2 linked regions of the Homo sapiens genome follow. The protein of the gene in region 2 interacts with the protein of the main gene of each other region in a biochemical or structural test. Each region holds a gene or a part of one and is shown on either strand. Other genes may lie near its edges.

Region 1 (3,500 bases), on a different chromosome or scaffold from region 2:
TGAATATTTGACTTTGAAAAAATATCTTAACGACATGGGGCAAAAAGTGCAATCTAAATGGTAGCCTTTACTAATGTGTGTGGAAAGAGGTGTTCCTCATTATCTAATATTTCAATGTGTTAAGAGTTTAATTTTTTTGTTATCATTAAAAAAGACAGGATTATAAAGAGATATCAAAGCACGATTTTAGATAACCTAAACGGCCCAGCCTATACGAAGTTGATTATATCTCGATGTCTGTAAAAGATTGCTGTTCTTGGAGTCTTGAGGTCTTGTGAATTGATTTCCTGCTTTCTTTCATTTTTTTCAATTTAAGTAATAATACATTTGTTATATTCCTTTCAGTGTAAGTTTCTATTTGGACAATTTTATGGGAACATGTGCATTCTCTATGTGAGCTTCTATCATATTCCTGTTTTATTAGCAGAACCTAAAGGAATTTATTTAATGATGTTGTGACATTACTGCTTTTTCTTTTTTCTTTTCTTAGTTCATATTTGCATTTTCGTTCAAGGATATGCTTAGCAATAAAATGTTCTTCCCAAAACCTTGTATGCTGATGCACTTTTATTTTCTTAACATTTGAGAAAATCTCGCACTGAAGCTAATTATGTCATATCTTATTAAAAGCCGAGTAAGAGCTAGACCACTTTCATGTGATAGAAGATATTCTAAGCAGTTACTAATTATTACATTATCAAAATGCCATATTTATGAGATAATTATCTGTTACTTGAGGCATTATTTTTTAGATTGCTATGATAGAATAACCAGGAGGGAGTGCATTTTTCTGGAAAGATGATAGAAACATTGTATTCTAGAAAAGATTATTGGATACTATGGTTTTGTTTGTTTGTTTTTGTTTTTTGTTTTTCGTTTTTTGTTTGTTTTTTTTTTGAGACAGAGTCTCGCTCTGTCGCCCGGGCTGGAGTGCAGTGGCACGATCTCGGCTCACTGCAAGCTCCGCCTCCCGGGTTCACACCATTCTCCTGCCTCAGCCCCCCGAGTAGGTGGGACTACAGGTGCCCGCCACCACGCCCGGCTAATTTTTTGTATTTTTCGTAGAGACGGGGTTTCACCGTGTTAGCCGGGATGGTCTCGATCTCCTGACCTCGTAATCCACCCGCCTCGGCCTCCCAAAGTGCTGGGATTACAGGCGTGAGCCACCGCGCCCGGCTTGGATACTATGTTTTTTAAAGGCATTTCGTACCTTTTACGTATTTTCTATAAGTCAACAAGCTTTAAACAGTATTTAAAACTATGTTCACATAGTGCCATAAGCACTAGAAAGTCTTAGATGTCTTCTTTCCAAGCCTCCCACCATATTAAAATTTAAAATTAAAAAACAGAATCCAAAACCAAAATTTAAATGAGTTCTTCAATTTTAACAGCTTCTTACAAGAATTTCTGATTACAACTTGTTTCATACACCCATTGTAGCAGTAATGTCTCATATTTCTCGTTCTCTCAGCACACACTTACTTGGCCAATTGGATAATCCATCTACCCTTTGTTCTTCACTGTAATCTAGAAATATAGATTTAACTGAACAGCTGTCCTTTATCCATATGTTGGTTACCAGTTTTCAAAGAGTTAGAATTTTAAAAATATATATTTAGTTAAGCCTGTGCCTTCAAGATAACATTAGTGGAGTGGTTATACTATCGACTATGTTAGGAATGGGGGGGAGAAAGTCAGGTTCAGTGATGTCAAATTATGTAAAGTTTTTTTTTTGTTCCTGTCTTCAAAGTTCTGTATTAGATGTTCTCCCATCATTTTTTGAGATGGAGTCTTGCAGCCTACAGTGCAGTGGCATGATATTGGCTCACTGCAACCTCTGCCTCTCAACCTCAAACGATTCTCCTGCCTCAGCCTCCTGAGTAGCTGCGACTACAGGCATGGGCCACCACACCCAGCTCATTTTTTAATTTATTTTTTATTTTTTTAGTAAGGAAGGGTTTCACCATGTTGGCAAGGCTGGTCTCGAACTCCTTACTTCAAGTGATCCACCCACCTTGGCCTTGCAAAATGCTGGGATTATAGGTGTGAGCCACTCCTCCTGAAATCTTTCTAAATCTCACTAATATATAATTCTAGGACTACTTTAAGCATTCACTTTTTCTTTAATTCAAGAAACATTTATTGAACACTTATGTACAAGCTAGTCTACTATTGGCTATTGTTACTTTGTTTCAATGAAGGCAGAAAATGGCTAGAAGGATTTTAAGCCTTTTTGTCTCTTGTATAAATCTATACAGGTCCAGTCTCTCTTTGCTCATATTCAAATTGAAGTTTGATCTTTCTCCAAAAAATATCCAAGCCCTGTGTTTGTCCCAGTTGAACTAATATCTTGATTATATAGTTTAAGATCAGTTTGATAATGTCTATTGAATATTTACTAAATGATTATGGGATATTAAATTGAGAGCCTTGGGAGCTTATCATCTAGTAAAGATGAACAAAAAATGGTACTATAGTGAATGCAAATAAGCTATCAAAAAGTACAAACTAAGTTGGGAGCTTAGAAGAAATTATGTAAGGGAAGGCTTCATAGAAGGGGTGACATTTTGGTAAACCTTGGAAAACTGATAGGCAGAAATAAGGGCTGTATATCATTCTAAGCAAACCCTTAAAGTGGGAGCAAGCAGGATCAAAACCATAATTTGGATTGATGACAGACTGCAAAAAGTACATTGGAGGAAGATATGAGTAGGAAGGTTTTTGAAATCATGTCAATGAATGGGAAGAGAGAAATGGGAGAATAGCTTGAGAAGTTCAAGGTCAAGGGCTGCTTTGTCGAGTACAAAGGACTCGAGCATATTTGAAATGAAAGGTAATAACTGATCTACTCTTATGGAGCAACCGAGTTTCCTGATAGAGATGTTTATCTGGGGGAAAAAGGCATAAGTCAATCTTCTTGGAGAGAATGGGATCAGAAACTGACATATTGCTACAGAGGTTACAAAAGCTGTAGTCAGAGGGCTTCAGTGTTCTGGATATATTAAAGGACAAGGTCAGATACCCAAGTGGGACCGTGAGTGATTAATGGCAGCAGTCCACTGACAGCACCAGTAGGAAGGCGCTAATGAAAAGATCTCTAAATATCAGTAAGGGGTTAGCTGCCATTAATAATACAACTTTATAGCTTTACTATTTTTTCTTTTATTGTTGAAATAGTGAGGGCACGTATTTTTCTAATTGTGTTTATTACAAAGAAAACAGACCCGAAGAACTTAAATGACTTCTCCAAGGTCACACAGCTAATACATGACAATGTCATGACTTAAAATCCAGTCTTGTGGTTCCAAATTTAGAGCTCTTTCATAAACCTGTCTCTAGAGAAGCAAGTCATTTTCTACTTTTTCCAGAAGCATTTGAAGTGGAAGCTAAGGCAGGAAATGAGAGGATATTGTGTTAGTCTACTGGGATTACCCTGGCAAAATACCACAGGCTGGGTAGACAACTGAAATGTATTTCTCAGTTCCAGAAACAAAGTTGCA
Region 2 (3,500 bases):
CTTTATGTGGGGAGCACATGGGGCCTCCCTCCACAGCCTACCCCTGCCTTGATGGGGCCCCTGTTAGCCTGGACAGAGGAAGGAAAGAGGGCCTGGAGGAGGCTCAGTGCTCAGCCTGGTGTCTGGCTGTCCCCACAGGGAGCAGAGAGACCCCATCTACCTGAGGGACAAGGTGACTCAGAGGCATTCCAAAGAGCAGTTTGAGGCGGCGCAGAAGCTTGAGCAGGAGTACAGCAGGTACTTCACAGGTAGGTGTGCGTGGGCCTGGAGTGGGGAGCAGGCAGCAGGGAAGGAAGCAGAGGCTTCCTAAGGCTGTTTTCTTAGCCGTGGAGAAGCCCGCACTTTCTACATGCTCCCAAGTGCTGTCATGAGCACGTTCCTGACAAGTCAGGTGTTCAGATTGCAGTCCCTGGCCAACGTCAGGATTCTTACAGGTTGAATGTTAAGCTCACCGATCTTGGCCTCAGGTCCTGCCTGGCTTGCCTGCTCATTTTCACACGTGCAGTGGTGGGTCTGTCTCATAGCACAGGTGCAGTTTAGTGCAGCCACAGTGTCCCCAGGCAGGGCGGGGACTGGAGCAGCCCCCAGTGTGCCAGCAGTGTGGGCAGCGGAGGCTAGGGGCCCATCTGTCCCTAGCACCCTCCAGGGCAGTCCCGTTTTGCAGCGGGATTTGGCAAACCCCCCTCCAAAAAAAAAAAAACAAAAAACAAAACAAAAAAAAACAATGCTGTCCCCTTACCATCTCTGGTCTTCAAAGTGAAACAAACTCAGTGAAGTTTGGTTCTATTTTACCTTCTGGCCTTCAGCCTCTTTGGGAAAGTCTGTCATTTGCAGGGCATTAGCATTTGCAGTCACAGAGGATGGGACAGGGATTCTAACTGCATTGTGGAGAGTGTTATGATCTAGTCCAGGGACCTGGGCTTGGTGCCCATGTGTGTGTAGGTATGTGCAGGTGTGCATGCCTCTGTGTGTGTGTGTGTGTGGGTGTGTGTGTGAACTTTCATTTCCAATTCCTCACAGACTGGTATTTAGCCAAATACACTGACAATTCCTAGAGAGATGAAAATTTAAAACTCTAAGTCTTGCAAAAGGTAAGCTCTATTTTTTTCTTGTTAGATTCAACAGACATAAAATTACGACGTCCTGTTTCCATAGCAGTTTCTAGACACTCACTGTCAATTTCTGAGCATGCCTTGTTGCAGTAGGGGCTTGGTTTGTGTCCAGGTGCTGTTATGTGGAGCACACTGGAGTACCCCTGGCCTGGTGTCTATAGACCCCTTTGTCAAACTCCTATAGTACAGGGCTGGCCCAAGTTGGCGCCATCATCTTTCTGTGACTCTCCTCTTGGCCATGAGCTATCTGGCTCCTTAAACTTGTCGTTTCCTGCAGAATCCTGCTAATGATTAGACCACCGCCACATGTCCTCCAAACTTCCTTCTGATGCCCTGGGATTCCCCCAACCATTGCAAACCCAACCCAGGGTGTTAACTGCAGTGGGGTGGGCAGTTTACATATGAGTGATCAACTCAAGAGGGGCAATTTTCTTTCCCAGTTTCTTGCTGGTGAAGGAGAGTCAGGTGGGGATGGAGCAGAGTGCCAAGGAGCACAAAGCAGACAGCCACACAGTAGAAAGAGTGCAAGCTGTACTGCCTTGCCTCAAACCTGGGGTCTTACTCTGAGCTGAATGACGTGTCTGGGGGGCTCTTTTGCAGGGGTCATCCAGGGAGGAGCCCTGTCAAGCATTTGCACTCAGATCTTGGCAATGGTCAATCAAGAACAAAATAAAGTCCTGTGGATTCCAGCCTGCCCGCTCTAGGAGAATGCTGTGCTGTGGATGACTGCAGCTGGCCGCCTGAGGGGACACCAGACTCAGCTCTTTTCTAGCGACTGAAAGTAGAAGTCTGTCCGTCTATGAACATGCGGGGGAAGGATCCGGAACCAGGACCCAGAAGCACCTCCTTTGTAGACAGAGGGCCACGGCTGCGTGCGATCCAGGCCCAGGCCCACACACTCTGCCCGTGTCACACGTGTGCTTTAACACAAAACAGATAACACTAAAGACGGGTTCAGCACCCACCTTTCTTTAGCCAGCTGATCAGAGATGCTGCAAAGAGAACCTTTCGGATCACTCGTTTACAAGCCTTTTCTAAGTATTTGGTGGTTTATGTTTACTTGAACGGCTCCATGTTGCCGGTGCCCAGCCCCTGTCCCCTCTGTCAACCCCCTGTCGCTTTGGTGTTGGTTTCGTTCCCGTCTTCAGCAAAACGACCTTGGAACCTCAATGGGGGCTGCTTTGCTTTGGGAGGTTCTTGTTGGTGGGACCAGAGCTTTGACAAACCTCCTGCTCCTTGGTGGCACCTCTCCTGGAAGGACGTCACAACTCCAGGTGCTCAGACTGCCTGTGGCAGCAGAACCAGTGCCTTTGGCATTTTCCTCCCACAATGGGGAAGGTGACTTTGGCATTCTTACAAACTCGTCTCTCGGCCTTTCTCTCCTGCCTTCCACAGCCTCTCGTTTCTCCTCCATCTGTGCTTATTACTTGAGGACTGTGTCTGCTCCGTGAGAGCTGCGTGGGCAGGGCTGCAGTGGGGTCCAGGTGGTGTTCAGCTGTGCTGATGCCTGCCATTGGGTCCTCCTTAGGCTCTGTAAGTCGTGACAGCCTTCATCAGTGCAATGTTTGCAGGGTAATTCTTAAACTTTTTAGAGGGTGGCAGGTACATCAGTTCTTTTTGATATGAAAACATTCATGTTTCAGACATTGAATTGAGAGCTTTTAGGGGAAGCATAATGGTTATTGTCACTATCAACAGTCTAAAAAGAAAAACTGAGGTCTTTTTAATCTTGATTACAGCACTCACGGCATGCACCCTACTCAGTGTGGGTGTCTTCGTTTGGGGGCTTTTTTTTTTTTTGCACTTCTGAGGCTAGATATGTCTGGCTGAAGATTTGATGTGGTTCCTCCTTAAGCTATGCGTCCTGTTAATAATAGGTACTGTACTGGGCTCTGTGTAAGTGTCGTTGGGGTAGGACCTATATTTTAATACTGTTCCTAACATTTCATTTTACTAGCGAGAAATCTTTGATTTCATTTTATTCTTTGTAATTCTAGACACTAGATTGTAGTTTAGCCATAACTGATGTTTTTTAAAAAGGGATATATTTTCTTGCACAGTTGTTCAAAAAAGAGACAAGTTTCAGTCCTCAATGCTGTCCTTTGTTTTACAGGTACAAGTTTTCTAGCTCAGACAAACTATGAAAAACTGTAGACTATTCTCAAGGTATTAACTCGCAGACCCTCTGGGGGTAGGGGCTGTTTTCTAAGTTACAGGCAGAGTGGGACTGAGATGGTACAGTGTGCACAGACAGGTACTGAGCTGACAGACTGGGATTTTCTGTACTAAAATGTTACTTTGTATCAAAAGTTAAACAGGCTTTAGTACAACAAATAAAGGTCAATTTCTGTAAGGCTGTGTTTGAAGATGTGAGTTTTTAATCTCTTC

Evidence for each region.
Region 1: the proteins of DLG5 (region 2) and NRXN3 interact in a test that uses a peptide from one of them, tested with the Homo sapiens proteins (one large-scale study listed by IntAct).

The regions. Positions count from the first base shown.
Region 1 is NC_000014.9:79,863,873-79,867,372, forward strand, and holds part of NRXN3 (neurexin 3), read left to right. Parts: 3' UTR 1-3,500. UniProt on the Homo sapiens protein: Neuronal cell surface protein that may be involved in cell recognition and cell adhesion. May mediate intracellular signaling. Functions as part of a trans-synaptic complex by binding to cerebellins and postsynaptic GRID1.
Region 2 is NC_000010.11:77,790,756-77,794,255, reverse strand, and holds the end of DLG5 (disks large homolog 5), read left to right. Parts: intron 1-138; coding exon 139-248; intron 249-1,712; coding exon 1,713-1,816; 3' UTR 1,817-3,465; downstream 3,466-3,500. UniProt on the Homo sapiens protein: Acts as a regulator of the Hippo signaling pathway.